Linked DNA regions of Homo sapiens: regions 2, 3 and 4 are each linked to region 1. Evidence: fine-mapped expression QTL. A gene starts in region 1. Each other region holds a variant in brackets. All regions are shown on one strand. Distances are between the middles of the regions. Region 1 holds the start of MTMR3 (myotubularin related protein 3). Region 2 overlaps MTMR3 (myotubularin related protein 3). Region 3 has its middle 20 kb from the start of ASCC2. Region 4 overlaps MTMR3 (myotubularin related protein 3).

Evidence for each region. PIP is the estimated chance that this variant, and not a neighbour inherited with it, causes the effect. A credible set is the group of variants that fine-mapping cannot tell apart.
Region 2: its variant is the best candidate, but not a certain one, in a credible set for the expression of MTMR3 in monocytes after interferon gamma (Fairfax 2014, PIP 0.75).
Region 3: its variant is the best candidate, but not a certain one, in a credible set for the expression of MTMR3 in lung (TOPMed, PIP 0.85).
Region 4: its variant is the best candidate, but not a certain one, in a credible set for the expression of MTMR3 in whole blood (TOPMed, PIP 0.85).

Annotation. Positions count from the first base shown.
Region 1 is chr22:29,880,737-29,884,901 of GRCh38, forward strand. It overlaps MTMR3 (myotubularin related protein 3), which reads left to right and starts at 2,438. Exons shown (of 20, transcript NM_021090.4): 1 at 2,438-2,623. RefSeq lists an enhancer at 2,244-2,538 and silencers at 2,251-2,420, 2,481-2,980.
Region 2 is chr22:30,028,708-30,032,841 of GRCh38, forward strand. MTMR3 (myotubularin related protein 3) reads left to right here. Exons shown (of 20, transcript NM_021090.4): 20 at 1-2,161. All of the region lies in intron 3 of HORMAD2-AS1 (HORMAD2 and MTMR3 antisense RNA 1), which reads right to left. Among named protein-coding and RNA genes, the nearest start is that of MIR6818, 24 kb to the left of the region's middle. The variant AAGATT/A (reference allele first, on the strand shown) is at 1,634.
Region 3 is chr22:29,856,256-29,860,420 of GRCh38, forward strand. No RefSeq gene overlaps it. Among named protein-coding and RNA genes, the nearest start is that of ASCC2, 20 kb to the left of the region's middle. The variant C/T (reference allele first, on the strand shown) is at 1,931.
Region 4 is chr22:29,968,679-29,972,843 of GRCh38, forward strand. It overlaps MTMR3 (myotubularin related protein 3), which reads left to right. Exons shown (of 20, transcript NM_021090.4): 3 at 2,298-2,384. The coding sequence starts at 2,382. Among named protein-coding and RNA genes, the nearest start is that of MIR6818, 36 kb to the right of the region's middle. The variant A/T (reference allele first, on the strand shown) is at 2,347.

The DNA of each region.
Region 1 (4,165 bases):
CCTGGGCAACAAGAGTGAAACTCTGTCTCAAAAATAAAATAAAATAAAATAAAATAAAAAAACTTTAAATCATTCATCAATTTTAGTATTTACTGTTTCTTCTCCCATTCCATTAAGCCTATAGTCAGTCATAGAACAGAAAGGGAAAATCAGGGCAGCCACATATAAATACAGGTGCAAAGTTGAGGCAGGAGTGGACCCTCAAGGGCCAAGAAGAGGTCATTGCTGAGCTTCACATTTAGCCCTGGGCTTTCTGGAAGCCAGAGTGAAAAGAGAGACACAATCAGATGCGTAACAGTTATCAAAAAGCAGGAAGCACACCGGTTTTTCTGGTAGTAAAGCAAGGGCTTTCCAAGCTTTTAACTCTAAAGTAATTTATTTCGTTCTTTCTTTTTTCTCTCTCTGACACCCAGATTGGAGTGCAGTGGCACAATCAGGGCTCACTGCAACCTCTGCCTCCCAGGCTCAAGCCATTCTCCCACCTCAGCCTCTCAAATAGCTGGGACTACAGGCGTGCACCACCACGCCTGGCCAGTTTTTTGGTATTTTTTGTAGAGATGGGATTTCGCCATGTTGCCTAGGCTGGTCTCGAACTCCTGAGCTCAAGCAATCCACCTGCCTCGGCCTCCTAAAGTGCTGGGATTTCAGGCATGAGCCACTGCGCCCGGCCTAAAGTAATTTCTTACTTGAGATTTTATTTCAGGCTACTGTGTCCATGCACTGGGCAGTACAGCCTGGTGGGTAAGACAGCACAGTATTTTTTTTTTTTTTTTGTCTGCTGGGTTTGAATTTTGTTTTAATACACGCAATTTATTCTGTGCTTCACTTTCTTCATCTGTAATATGGAGATAATGGCATCTACCTATTAAAGTTGTGAAGATTCAATTAGATGAGTTGTATGAATAAATGTTAGCTGTTAGTTTAGTTTCGTTTTTTTGAGACGGAGTCTTGCTCTGTCGCCCAGGCTGGAGTGCGGTGGCGCAGTCTCAGCTCACTGCAACCTCCGCCTCCCGGGTTCAAGTTATTCTCCTGCCTCAGCCTCCCAAGTAGCTGGGATTACAGGCGCCCGCCACCATGCCCAGCTAACTTTTGTATTTTTAGTAGATCCGGGGTTTCACCAAGTTGGCCAGGCTGGTATCGAACACCTGAGTTCAGGTGATCCACTCACCTTGGCCTCCCAAAGTGCTGGGATTACAGGCGTGAGCCCCCGCGCCCAGCCAGCTGTTAGTTAATCAAGAAATTCGACTGCCTACTACTTAACCTGCACAGTTCTAGGTGCTGGGGAAACAGTGACGAACAAGACAAGATCCTTATCTTCAAGTAGCTTTTACATTTTAGTGGAGTAAAATGACAGTAAACATTGAAAATAAATTTCAGAAAGTGCTGTGGAAAAACTTTACAACAGACGCAGGAATAGATTTCATTTGACTAGTTCTCCCAGTTTCCAGAAAAGTCAAGGGTAGAATGTTAAAAGGCAACTCAGAGGAGGTGAATCTGTTAGGGCCTACGGTAATGCAATCCTGGTTTGTGGAATTCTGCAGGCTAGTGTGGGTAGGTTACAATTTTTTGGGGGAGTTGTTTTTTACTTTGTTTGAAAACTCACTTCTTCCCGCTGAGCTTTTGATTAGGAGCTGAAGTTGAATCAGTTTGAAATTGTATTCTGGACCGGATGCGGTGGTTCATGCCTGTAATCCCAGCGCTTTGGGAGGCCGAGGTGGGTGGATTGCTTCAGCCCAGGAGTTTGAGATCAGCCTGGACAAAATGGCAGAAACCTCATCTCTACAAAAAATACAAAATTTAGCCGGGCATGATGTTGTGAGTCTGTAGTCTCAGCTACTCAGGAGGCTGAGGTGTGAGGATCGCTTGAGCCCGGGAGGCAGAGGTTGCAGTGAGCCGAGATGCCACTGCACTCCAGCCTGGGCGACAGAGCCAGACTCTGTCTCAAAAAAAAAAAAAAAAAAAAAAAAAAGAAAAGAAAAGAAAAGAAATTGTATTCTGAATACAACTTCTAAAACACTATATTTACTTGCATTATATTAAACTGGTTTTATCCTGACCACAATTGCAGGTGGAAGATACCACTATTGTTCTATTTTTCTGGTAAGTAGAGTGAGCCATGTCTTGCCCAGGGTTACAGAGCTTGGAAAAGACGCCTCCTAAAAATCTGTAGGACCACCTTTGGTTTTCTTCCAGATTTTTTTTTGTCATCTCTTTTCCTCCACCCATTTCCCATCTGTCTAGCCATTCTTGCTCCGCTGGGCTTTTTCGCGAGCCTCTCCCCAGCTGCAGCCCCGCCCATCTCCTGGGGCGTGACCACCTGTCCAGGCCCCGCCCCCGTCCAACCGGCGGAGACCCGCCCCCTTTCCCGGACACCGGGCTCAGCGCCCGAGCGTGCGCGCGCGTCCTCGCTCGTCGCCCGGCTCGGCGTCGGGAGCGCGCTCTGTGTGGCCGCTGCCGCCATGTTGTTGTGGTTGTGAGAAGGCGGCGGCGGCGGCGGAGTAGCAGCCGGACGAGACGTCCCAGCGGCTCAGGCGCTGCCCAGCGCCGGCCCTGGCAGGGAGCCTGGTGGGGTGGCGGAGGGGGAGACTGTGCCGTGGAGGGCCTCGCCATGTCCTGCTGCCCGGTAAGAACCCCATCCCCGTCCTCCGTCTCCTCGGCGGGTGAGGAAGAGCTGGAGGAGGGGCCGGCCTCGGCCCCGGCCCTGGCCAGGCGGCTGTCACCCTCTGAGGAGGCAGCGCCCTGGGAGGGCTGGGGACTGCGTGCGGGGCCCGGGGAGGGGCGTCCCCGGCGGCTGTCGCCGCCAGGGGGAGGCGCTGGGTGTGGGAGTGGGAATGGGAGCTCGGCGGCCGAGCTCGGCCCGGACCCTAGATGCGGGGGAGGCGGGGTCCCGGGCTCGGGCTGCCTTCCCAGACCTGGCGGGGATGGGCCCGTGCGGCTCTGGGTGTGGGACGTACCCTCGGAGCGCCCGGAGTTATTCCCACGAACTCCCGGGAGGTGGGTGTGCGCCCTTCGCCCCCTGCCGGGTCTGTGGCGGTCCATCGTTGCCGGATACTGGAGGTCAGGGGCCATGGGAGCCCCGGGGCGAACGGTGCGGGCCTGGGCCTTGTGGAAAGGAGGAGTGACCGCCCGATCGTGCAGCAGGGCATCCCCCTGACCTGGTAGTACTTAGGTGGGTAGGATGATTGGGGGCGGTTGGCGTAACTGAGGGAACCCTGGTCAGACTGCTCCGCAAATGATTACAGTGTTATTTCTCCGGTAGTAATTTTGCTTGATGTATGGCATTTCCGGACCCATAAGATGATACTGTAGGTTGTATTTTGGACTGGAAAACTTATGTCAAAATTATGGGGTAGATTTTTTGGCCACATTAATAGACTCCCCTGGAATTTGATAATCTCACTTGTGAGTTTTGGACATGGACTGCTATTACATATTGATGTTCAAATGTCCTTTCCAGACCCAGGCCTAAATTCTTACTGTTGTAGTATCTTGATTCTGACATCTATTTTTCCACAACCCAAACAAACAAAACAAAACAAAACAAAACCCCAAAACCATATACTTTTCTAGTTAAGGTTCAACTTTCTCATATGTGAATGGTAATGCCATAAGAGGCCTGGGTTGAATTACAGGAGATTATTATTATTTTTTTCAATGTGAAATGTTTGTGATTTGTCCATGGAGAGGTGGTGGGGACCTTCCCCTTTCAGATTCAGGGCTGTTCAGTAGGACAGGAGACATTGATGGCATGCAGAAAGTCTTCCCTTTATAGGGCCTATGACTTGGGTAGGCTAGAAGAGCTTACAGAATGACACTTTTTTTTTTTTTTTTTTTTTTTTTTTTTAAGACAGAATCTCTCTCTCCCGCCCAGGCCGGAGTGCAGTAGTGCGATCTCTGCTCACTGCAACCTCCGCCTGCCAGGTTCTAGCAATCCTCCCACCTCAGCCTCCCAAGTAGCTGGGATTACAAGTGTGCGCCACCACGGCTGGCTAATTTTTGTATTTTTAGTAGAGACGGGGATTTCACCATGTTGGCCAGGCTGGCCTGGAACTCTTGACCTCAAGTGATCCGCTTGCGTTGGCCTTCGAAAGTGTTGGGATTATAGGCGTGAGCCACTGCCGCCAGCCAGAATGACACTGTTTTGAGTAAACCCAGTATAGTATGT
Region 2 (4,134 bases), 150 kb after region 1:
TCACTTTCTGAATGTACCTTCTACCTAAAGTATACAAACACAAAGAGCCAGCTGAGCTGGTTCTAGTGTGAAAGCCGTAAGTGCCACCCAGCAGGCGTTTGAAAACAAGAAATCATTCTTCTGTGGAAGGAGAATGTGCCATCTCAGCTACCCTCAGTCCGCCAGGCAGCCCAGTCTGTGTATTCATATGAAGTTGTGAAAACCATGAGTGTGTGCCATGGCCATCGTGTCTACACACAGCCACTATTGTTCCTGTGGGCTAGTCTCCAGCAAATTAAAACACTGGCATGGCCTAGGAAGGGCGTTGCGAGCTCCTAAATGGAAAGCTTCTCTGGGGGTAGGGAGATGAAGAGCCAAGATGCTGGTGAAGCAGGTGCAGTGAGGATCCAAGGCAAGGAATTGCCCTGAGGGAGGTGGCTGCATATGGAGAAAGGCAGTTCTCTGTGGGCAAGGCCAGCTTGCTTCAGGCTGTAGAGGGAATTTGGTCTGAAGCAACAGGGCATGAACTGTGACTTTGAGCTGCCAGGTTGTCTTCATCTCAGAACTTTCCTATCCTGGCACTCTCGTTACCTTTCTTCTATACCTTGGCCTCTGTAACTGCAGTCCAAAACAAGTTACAGCTGCCTTAATCCACTGAGATTCTCTATGAGGATGTACAGAAAAGTTTTCCTGTAATAATTTTGCTTATATGCTAACTCTTTTCATGTTAGCAAAGAATATTCTATGAATTAGAATGTTACTGTGGTAGATCTAAAGGAGAATGAACAGAAGGTGCTGGAGGACCTGTTAAACAATCTCTGGCTATTAAAAAACATCAAGATGAGAATTAAAGGCATATCCTGATATACTTGCCTGCTTGCACATGAGGCTGGGAGATCCCATGCCTGTTGAAGTTAACTCTAGCCCTGACCTCTATTGATCTTTTGGGAATGAGGGCTGATTTGAAGGTGCTGTTGCAGGATTTCATTTAGCTGCTGCCAGTTCAAGTGACCTGTCCCCAGGGCTGCAGCTGTATCCACCTGATTGCAGTAGGTGAGGGCTAACAGCAGAATTTAAAGTGGACCCTGGGCTGTGGAGCAAAGTGACTATCCATTTGGACTTTTGGATAATGTGGCAGGAGTCCCAGCTGTTTAATTTCTAGTCACATTTTCCAGAAAGTTGTTCTAAGTTGAGATTACTGACAAGATTTCTCAAGGGCAGGACCAGATATGTGAGAGACTTCTAGTTCAGAGCTGACCCCTCTAAGCCTCTGACACTTAAACACGAGTCCTGCTGTCCCCAGCACACAACTGCACTGAAGCCTTGTTCCTCTCGGCTGGTGTAGAGCTCATCTGCATGTTGTGTGCAGATACCAGTAGCCTCCCTGCTTGAACAGGCCTCTCCTAGGCTAGGCAGGTGTTCAGAGGCATGAAGGTCTGGGCAGGGGAAGGGCGTCTTCTGAAATGGGAGTTACCAGGTTTTTAAATGCTGCTATTGTTTTATTTACCATTTAAGGTCTTTTCTATTATATCTGAGTAACTAGTCAGTTTTTCTTACAGTGCTCATAGCAGTTGTATTTGAATTGTATTTTCAGTGAAATTTGTTTTACATTGCCATTTAAAATTGGCCTTTAACAGCTTCCCAACTAGCTTAT[AAGATT/A]TTTTTTTTTAATGAAAACATAACCCATGAGGCTCAGATGCTGTTGAAGAAATAAATGGTATGTTGCTGCTGACAGTAGTGCTTGCCTATTGTAACAGCATTGGTTCTGCTGTAGCCTCGGTGACCATTTAAGTTGAATAAATCTGTCATTTTCACCCACAAACAGTTGTTGAGCCCCTGGATTTGGGTTGTCACTGTGGTTCTCCTGCCAGTGCTATAATCCAGTGTCGTAGGTGCAGGGTATGAATCAGCTCAGCCTCTTAGGAGAGAGGGGCTCTCAGCGAGGAGGGGGCGGGGGGGGGGTCACTATTTATCTTCCAGAGGCAGGGTTCATGGATTCCTGATGTTTAGAGGCGGAAGGGACCTTAGGTCACCTACTTCCACGGTTTTCATACTGTTCTCTGGGGCCTCGTGGAGAGGGAGCCTCCAGGCCCATTCAAAGCTTTATTAGATTTAAAAGTAAGATCTGGTATGAAGAAAGGTTTTGTTTGTTTCTTAAAATAAAAAGTCTGAAAATCACTAATCCAATCTCCTCCTTTTTCATTGAGGAAACTGAGACTCAGAGAGGGCCAAAGACATCCAGATTACCAATGAGTTAACAGCAAAATTTGAATAAAAGTCATTCTTGGCCAGGCACAGTGGTTCATGCCTGTAATCCCAGCACTTTGGGAGGCCGAGGTGGGAGGATCACTTGAGCCCAAGAGTTCAAGACCAGCCTGGGCAATATGTTGAGACCCATCTCTACGAAAAATATAAATAAACCTGTCTCTACAAAAAATATGAATAAACTAGTCAGGAATGGTGGTGCACACCTGTAGTCCCAGCTACTTGGGAGCCTAAGGTGGGAGGATCTCTTGAGCCTAGGAGTTTCAGGCTGTGGTGAGCCATGATCACGCCACTGCACTCCAGCCTGGGCAACAGAGGGAGACCCTGTCCCATAAAAAAAGGAAAATACTTTCCCGACTCCTAACCCTCTTCTTGTGCTCTTGGGCCTCCAGAAAGCCTGATGTAAATAGCTGTATTGGTTCTCGTTGAAATCTCAGCGAGGAGCTTAGGCAATTGCCATCACAAGGCTTGAATTATGAGCCCTTCTCTCCCTCTTAACCAAAATCAAAATGTTGTGATAGTCTAATCCAGTGTTTTTGTTTTTAACTTTTCAAATACATAAAAACAAATGATATGTTATTAGCATGAATCATCACAGTTTAAGTCATAACATCTTAAAATCAGTGGGCTTGGGGAGGGAGCATTTTTCATTAGTGCAGATGATAGGTTCACTGTGAACTGTCCCAGCATCCAATTTCTGGATTTTGTTTTAGTTGTTATATAATATGGGGGAGTTTAATTTTAAAAAATTTGAGTTTTATAGGTAAGCGGTTGCAAATGGTAGTAGTCACAGCTTGCCTGCAATCTCTTGTTGACAAAACTGAAGTACATGCCTGAAAAAAGGGATTAATAGAAGAATATCCAAAACCTGCTTTCAGTCTTTATCATCCATATATCAGATGAGAGACACCCAAAGATTTATAAGCACTAAAATTACTTTATGCTCAGGGCCACCAGGTCTGAGTTGGCCCTGGGCCTAATGATCACAGCACTAAGCTGGTGCCCTCCCAGTCAGTGACCCCTGCAAAGGCCACACACACACACACAGCAATACAGACTGTACAGTGAAGTCTCAAGCAGCCTCACTGAATGTGTTTTAAACCTTTGGGTGTATATAGTTTAAAAGACGGTTATTAATATTTATCAGGACATTATTTATTAATATCAGGACAAATTCTCCTGAGGCAGTGCCACAAAAGTTGGTTTGAAAATCACCAGTTTGGTGGAAAGCCCCTGTGTTTTAGAGCCCACAGACCTGGGGTGGGATCCTAGCCCTGCAGCACCAGCTGAGTTGCTCATGGGTGTATGAGGAACTCGGAGACATTTCCTCATCTGTAGCAGAGCACATGGCATATAAATGGAGTGGGAAGGTGGGGGCCTAGCAAATGCTGTCCTCCCCACTGTCCCATGAAATGAGATAGATAGATGATAGCATTTCTGTCTCTGGCTTCTAGCAGGCATTTGGAACAATCAATCAGAGCCAGGCAGCACTTCTATTCCACTGTGTGTTGAAACTAGACCCTGCTCTCGCTTCCACCTTACAGGGGAAAACATTTGACTTTGAAGCATTCCAATCTGAGTTTTGCACTAAGTTACAAATGAATCACTAGCTGAAGAAGACAAACTAAAGTTCATATATGTGTTTTAGTTTTATTTATTTTGAGACAGAGTCTCACTTTGTTACCCAGGCTGGAGTGCAGTGGCGCGATCTCGACTCGCTGCAACCTCCGCTTCCCAGATTCAAGTGATTCTCCCGCCTCAGCCTCTTGAGTAGCTGGAATTACAGGCACCCACCATCATGCCCAGCTAATTTTTGTATTTTTGTAGAGATAGGGTTTCACCATGTTGGCCAGGCTGGTTGAACTCCTGACGTCAGGTGAAATGCCCGCC
Region 3 (4,165 bases), 24 kb before region 1:
CCTTTAGCTCCGTAACAGAAAATCAGCAGTGCCAGCAGGGCATGAAAACAGCCCAGTTTATACATATTTGTCAATATCTCAGTTTATGGTTAGGCATATCTGGGCAATTTGGAACAAAATAGAATGGTTACTGACGAGCCCCAGATTGATATTTTGTAATGGTTCTCCATGGCAGTTCAAGGAACTGTGTGGGGCATTTAAACCTCTTCAACTGTATCTTATCTTGTCCCATAAACACCCACCGTTGAGTCAACTGTGACTCCATGACCATCTCACCCCTCTAGCTCCCATGCCTGTATCCCAGCTGGTCCCACTGCAGGAGATGTTCTTCCTACTCCTGTTCCCCTTGTACCTGGTATACTTAGAATCATCTTTCAGGTCTCAGCTGAGTGCCATGTCCTCTAGGAAGCCCTTCTGACTTTCTCAAACTGAGTAAGGTTCCTCCTGTAAGTTCCCAAGTTGCCTAAAATAAACCTTAGCACATTGCCTTGTACTCGTCTATTGATGTGTTTGTCCCTCGCAGCAGGTGATAAATTCCTAGACATTCAAGTACTATGTCTAGTTCACCAATCATGTCCTCAGGGCCAAGGCTTGTGTCTGGCACAGAGAAGGTGCTCAGTATTTGTTGAATAAATATTAGCTGGCTTCAAAGTGTCTAATAATTTGAATTGAGGGTACATTGGGAGTTAATGAAATCTCAGGTTTTATATTATATATAAAAGTGAAAGCCACGTCTATAATTCCAGCTGCTTGGTAGACCAAGATGGGAGGACATCTTGAGGCCAGGAGTTTGAGGCTGCAGTGTACTATGATCACACCTGTGAACAGCAATTGCACTCCAGCCTGGGCAACATAGTGAGACCCCATCTCTAAAAAAATAAAAAATGGAAAAATAATTAGTTCATGTGTTACGGTATGTTAATATGGTATGTTAATATTATTATGTTAATACATCAAATATATACTTACATACACAAATATTTTAGACTCACATAACCACAAATTTAAAAAGACTGTATTATTAAAAATGGAAAGAAAATAAATATGCAACAATCTAACAATATAAGCATTGTTTATTTTCCTCCAGCCATATATTTTCCCAAGTGGCAGCATATGTTCTTTCTACCCTCTTACTTTTTTTTTTTGAGACAGTCTCGCTCTGTTGCCCAAGCTGGAGTGCAGTGGCGCGATCTCAGCTCACTGCAACCTCCGCCTCCTGGGTTCAAGTGATTCTCCTGCCTCAGCCTCCCGAGTAGCTGGGACTACAGGCGCACGCCACCACGCCCAGCTAATATTTTTATTTTTATTTTTATTTTTATTTTTATTTTTTTTCCCCAAGGCAGAAGAATTTTTCTTAGTACAGAACAAAATGAAAAGTCTCCCATGTCTACTTCTTTCTACACAGACACGGCAACCATCCGATTTCTCAATCTTTTCCCCACCTTTCCCCCCTTTCTATTCCACAAAACCGCCATTGTCATCATGGCCCGTTCTCAATGAGCTGTTGGGTACACCTCCCAGACGGGGTGGTGGCCGGGCAGAGGGGCTCCTCACTTCCCAGTAGGGGCGGCCGGGCAGAGGCGCCCCTCATCTCCCGGACAGGGCGGCTGGCCGGGCGGGGGGCTGACTCCCCCACCTCCCTCCCGGACGGGGCGGCTGGCCGGGCGGGGGGCTGACTTCCCCACCTCCCTCCCGGACGGGGCGGCTGGCCGGGCGGGGGGCTGACTCCCCCACCTCCCTCCCGGACGGGGTGGCTGGCCGGGCAGAGGGGCTCCTCACTTCCCAGTAGGGGCGGCCGGGCAGAGGCGCCCCTCACCTCCCGGAAGGGGTGGCTGGCCGGGTCGGGGGCTGACCCCCCACCTCCCTCCCGGACGGGGCGGCTGGCCTGGCGGGGGCTGACCCCCACCTCCCTTCCGGATGGGGTGGCTGC[C/T]GGGCGGAGACGCTCCTCACTTCCCAGACGGGATGGCAGCCGGGCGGAGGGGCTCCTCACTTCTCAGATGGGGCGGTTGCCAGGCGGAGGGTCTCCTCACTTCTCAGACGGGGCGGCCGGGCAGAGACGCTCCTCACCTCCCAGACGGGGCGGTGGGGCAGAGGCGCTCCCCACATCTCAGACGATGGGCGGCCGGGCAGAGACGCTCCTCACTTCCTAGATGGGATGGTGGCCGGGAAGAGGCGCTCCTCACTTCCTAGGTGGGATGGCGGCCGGGCAGAGACGCTCCTCACTTTCCAGACTGGGCAGCCAGGCAGAGGGGCTCCTCACATCCCAGACGATGGGCGGCCAGGCAGAGACGCTCCTCACTTCCCAGACGGGGTAGCGGCCGGGCAGAGGCTGCAATCTCGGCACTTTGGGGAGCCAAGGCAGGCGGCTGGGAGGTGGAGGTTGTAGCCAAGATCACGCCACTGCACTCCAGCCTGGGCACCATTGAGCACTGAGTGAACGAGACTCCGTCTGCAATCCCGGCACCTCGGGAGGCCGAGGCTGGCGGATCACTCGCGGTTAGGAGCTGGAGACCAGCCCGGCCAACACAGCGAAACCCCCTCTCCACCAAAAAAATACGAAAACCCGTCAGGCGTGGCGGCGCGCGCCTGCAATTGCAGGCACTCGGCAGGCTGAGGCAGGAGAATCAGGCAGGGAGGTTGCAGTGAGCCGAGATGGCAGCAGCACAGTCCAGCTTCGGCTCGGCATGAGAGGGAGACCGTGGAAAGAGAGGGAGAGGGAGAGGGAGAGGGAGAGGGAGACCATGGAAAGAGAGGGAGAGGGAGGGAGAGGGAGAGGGAGAGGGAGAAGGCTCGGCATGAGAGGGAGACCGTGGAAAGAGAGGGAGAGGGAGAGGGAGACCGTGGAAAGAGAGGGAGAGGGAGGGAGAGGGAGAGGGAGAGGGAGAGGGAGAGTTTTTTTTATTTTTAGTAGAGACGGGGTTTCACCATGTTGGCTAGGATGGTCTCAATCTCTTGACCTCGTGATCCGCCCACCTCAGCTTCCCAAAGTGTTGGGATTACAGGCATGAGCCAACGTGCCCGGCCTAAAAAATATTTTAATTAGCTAGACAAAGTGGCACATGCCTGTAGTCCCAGCTACCCAGGAGGCTGAGGCAGGAGGATCACCTGAACCCAGAAGTTTGAGGTTGCAATGAGCTATGATTGAGTCATTGCACTCCAGCCTGGGCGATAGAGCGATAAAAAGATATATATGCATATATATACATATACACACACACACAGACACAGATATATATATATATCAAAAATAAAAGAGAATATACTGTACGGTTCCATTTATATAAAGTTCAAAATAAGACAAACTAATCTACAGCAATAAAAGAATAGTGGGCCAGGCGAGGTGGCTCATGCCTATAATCCCAGCACTTTGGGAGGCCGAGGCAGGCAGATAGCTTGAGTCTGAGAGTTCGAGGCCAGCCTAGGCGACATGATGAGACCCCCCCATCTCTATAAAAAGTACAAAAAAATTAGCTGGGCATGGTGGCACATGCCTGTAGTCCCAGCTACTTGGGAGGCTGAGGTGGGAGGTTCACTTAAACCCAGGAGGTCAAGGCTGCAGTGAGCTGTGATCACACCACTGCACTTCAGTCTGGGTGACAGAGTGAGACCCTGTCTCAAAAAAAAAAAAGTGGTTATGTGGGAAGGCAGTTATTGATTATAGGGAACACGAGGGAGTTGGTAACATTGGGGGCTGATAACATTCTATATCTTGATAGAGATGTTGGTTACATGAGTGTTTACATATATAAAACTATGTCAGGCTGTACACTTAAGATTTGTGTACTTTATGTGTAAAATAAAATTGTAAACATATATTATGCTTCCTAAACTAGTGTAATCTGAGTAAGTCTGTAGTCTTGTTAATTGCCAATTAATTTCCTGACTTTGGTAATGCACTATAGTTACGTAAGATGTTACCATTGGGGGAAGTTGGATGATAGGTACACAGAACTTCTCTGTACTATTTTGCAACTTCTCGTGAGTCTACAGTTTTTTCAAAATATGAAGTTAAAAAAATCTTATCCTTCCTATTCTTCATTTAAAAATCAGACAGTTTAAACATGCTATTCTTTCCATCATAAAATCCTTCTTGCCTTCAACCAAATTTATGGATCTAATTCATTTATTTTCTTTTCTAAGTGATTTCAGGCTCACCTTTCCCTCC
Region 4 (4,165 bases), 88 kb after region 1:
AGAAAGACCAACAATAAAATCAAGTTCCATGAATTTCTGTTCACAGTGGTGTCCCCAAAGTCTACAACAGTGCATGGAGTGTAGAAAATATTGAATAAATATTTATTGAAAAGAATGAATAAATGAGATAATTTTACATTAGTTTCAGTTCTTGAGCTAGGCCAAATCACAAAAGTTTGGCTTGGTTTGAAGAGTGGTTAAGAATGATGACTCCAACTTGGTCTGTTACTGAACCATAAGGTTCTTCCTCATCCTTCCAGCCTCTAAAAAATGGTGCACCCAAAACCCCTGTCCTTAGTCATCTTAGCCTCTCCATTTATACTTGCTCCTGCATTTGGCTTTAATGCCATTCACACACTGATGTCTCCCACATTTATGTTTATATCTCTAGGCTCCATCTTCTTGATCTCTAGTCTGGTTTAACTAGCACTTTACTTGGCATCTTTGTTTGGATATGTGATAGGTTTTCAAACATAATGTGTCTAAAATGGAAACTTTAATTTCTTGTTCCTTGTCCGTTGAGCTGTCTCTGCATGGCACGAGAAGAATAGATTTTTCTTACAATGCTCTTCATCAATAAATAGAAAATCCTTGCTTCCGGTTGCTGACACAAAAAGCTTGACTTCTCTTTTTCTATCCTATTTAATTAATCCACTCAAATCCTATGGGCAGTATTTTCAAAGTATATCCAGAATCAGTAACATCCCACCACTTCTATCTCTACTACCTTTTCATTGCTATATTGTCTCTTGCTGGGGTTAATGACGCTTTCTAATTGGTCTTCTTTTGCCCCTTACCCCCAGTAGCCTTGACTGTTCTCTACCCAACAGCCAAAATGATTCTTTTTTTTGTTTTTTTGGTTTTTTTTTGAGACTGAGTCTCACACTGTCACCTGGGCTGGATGTGCAATGGCGTGATCTCGGCTCACTGCAACCTCTGCCTCCCAGGTTCACGTTATTCTCCTGTCTTAGCCTCCCGAGTAGCTGGGACTACAGGCACACACCCCCATGCCCTGCTAATTTTTTGTATTTTTAGTAGAGATGGGGTTTCACTATGTTGGCCAGGCTGGTCTCGAACTCCTGACCTCGTGATCTGCCTGCCTTGGCCTCCCAGAATGCTGGGATTACAGGCGTGAGCCACCACACCCGGCCAAAATGATTCTTTAGAGTAAGTCATCTCCTACCATTCCTCTGCTCAAAATGCCTCAACACAATCTGGGCCTTGCTACTGCTTTTATGTTCTCTTGTTCCCTTGCTTACATTGCCCTTAAAAGAGTTTTATGCTGCACATTGAAGCCCAGACTCCCTGAAATATCCTGTGTTACAGAAGCTTAGCAAACTAGAAATGTTGGTTTTGCATGAGACTGTTCAAAGAAAAGAGCAACTTACTTACTCTTTGTATAAGCCTATTTTTGGGTTTCTAGTTGGATATTCTTTCCCCCTTTTTTGTTCTTATAAAACCAGGTAAAGGTATTAGTACAGATTGTAAGTTTTTAGAAGAGCATAGAATATTTGGGTAATAAGGCAAATTTATTTTTCCTATTTTGCTCGTAAGTCAGTTTGGTTTCCTCAGATGGGGGATCCATTTTGAATTTAGAGATAACCACAAAAACATCCTAAAATACTACAAGAATAATGATTTTGCATTTGCAGGTTGATGTTATTTATTTTTTTGAGACAGAGTCTTGCTCTGTTGCCCAGACTAGAGTGCAGTGGTGTAATCACAGCATACTACAGCCCCAACCTTCCAGGCTCAGTTGATCCTCCCACCTCATCCTCCTGAGTAACTGGGACTACAGGCATGTGCTGCCATGACCAGCTTTTTTTTTTTTTTTTTTTTTTTTTTTTGAGACAGAGTTTCACTCTGTTGCCCAGGCTGGTCTCAAACTTCTGAGCTCAGGCTATCTGCCTCAGCCTTCGAAAGTGCTGGGATTATAGGCATTAAGCCACCTTGCCTGGCCTGTAGGTTGATTTTAATTGTTGCTTTATTCATCCAAGTTTTATGATATTTTTTGTTTTACTACGAACATTAGGAATGTTAGCCTTTGATACTGTTTTTGCAGAAACAGGTTAAGACTAACAGGAGTTTTACAAAGGAACTGTCAAATTGGGATTTGACTAGTGGGAATTGGCTGGGTGATAATCAACTTTTTCTTGGCTGACTCTGATCAGCTTCTTAGGCCTGTGTATATACAATACCTTTGTGAGGATATGGCCGATTAGGGGAAAAACTATTGCCAATTTTGCCTCCCCTCCTCTTTTTTTTTTCTTCTTCCCCCTCTTCCCCCCCACCCCCAGACTTCACCATAAGGGAAAGAAGAGAGCCTTGTTGGACACTGAAGAAGGG[A/T]CGGGGATTTCTCCTCCTAATCTGGGCCTCTTGTCATGGTAAGTACAAGGAAATAAGAGTAAAAAAAAAAACAAAAAACCCTGTGTCCTGACAATTAAGTGAACACTAATAAATTCATACTTACCCATTTTTGTTTTTGTAAGAAATTATTTCTTTTTCTTTCCCAGATCTCTTGTGTCTTTTCTTTTCTTGTTTACTTAGTAGTAATAGAGTACTCCAATATACAGAGCAGTTTCATTTCTGTTAACTTTAATCCTGTGAGCTAGATGTTGTCTCTTATTTTTCAGTCAGCAAGTAAATGGAATCAAGACTAAAACATACAGTTCTCGGACTCCAGGTTTTTAATTCCTTTTCTAGGAAGTAGCGTGTAGTGAAAACTGTGTGTGTGTGTTTGTGTGTAGACAAATTGTAAGATGGTAATCTGCATATTTACTTAAAAATTTTTTTAAATTGACAAATTACATATATATTGTGTACAGCATAATGTTTTGAAATACATATATACCTTGTGGAATGGCTAAATCAAGCTGATTAACATATGTATTACTTCACATAGTATATATGCTTTATGAATTTATAGAAGCAATTCCCTACCTTCCCTGTTTTGTCTCTTTAAGGCAGTATTTTGATCCCATAGTAGGTGGAGCAGCCCTGCACACCCCCTCCTGTATCTTTAACCAGAAAGAGAATTTAATGGACAATTTAATGACTTACGGGCCATTTCGGGCCCAGCTCAAGCAGAGAAGATGGAGCAACAAGCCAGCCACATTTTCATCAATCCTGAGGAAATGTAAACAGTGCTTCAAGGCTTAAAAAAGAAATGGTCCTCTGTAATATTGTCCTTCTTCTACCTTGTGATGTTTCCTAGATCCAAACTGTTTTATGCTGATGCACAGAGAAGGAATTGAAAAGGCTACATTAATTTCAAGCTTCATTAGGGACGTATGGAAAATGCTTTTCAAAATTAGAAAAAGTAAAACAAAAAAACTAGTTGTGCAGAAATGTCATATTAAAAGGAAGAGAAAGGTAACTGCCCTTATCTTAAAGGCATGCCAATTTTTTCTTAGTTTGTGGGCATTACAACTTTATGATTTATCTTATACCTAAACATTGATGAACTTTTCCTGTTATTTTCTTGATTATATTTTATTTTATTGGTTTTCCCACAGAGTTTTCAATGAATTGAAAAAGTGCTTGTCTAGTATTTCAGCCAGTGCTAATGAATAACAAATGATGGGCTTATGAAAGCAGCTCTGTTCTGTATTGAGGGTTTGTCCTTCATTGTATACCACACGGCTAGTAACAGTGTGGTCCTCTTCCTGGTGCTGCTGGGTTCTCCATGGTGCCTAGCAGAAAGTCTTCCTGGTGTTTTCCCTGGCCTGATGCTTTAGACAACGCTTGGGAGTTGATTCTGTGTGTACTAGTTGGGGAGTAGCATGGCCATGTATGTATCTTTTGTTTTTGTTTAGTTTCTCATAAAGTAGCATTGTTACAAGTTTTTACAAATTCTCATTTATAACTCTACCACCAGAACCCATGGTTGTATTCCGTTTTCTTTTTTCTTGAGACAGAGTCTTGCTCTGTTGCCCAGGCTGGAGTGCAGTGGTGCGATCTCGGCTCACTGCAACCTCCACCTACTGGGTTCAAGCGATTCTTGTGCCTCGGCCTCTCAAGTAGCTAGAATTACAGGCACCTGCCACCATGCTTAGCTAATTTTTGTATTTTCAGTAGAGACGGGGTTTCGCCATGTTGGCCAGGCTGGTCTCGAACTCCTGACCTCAGGTGATGTGCCTGCCTCAGTCTCCCAAAGTGCTGGGAT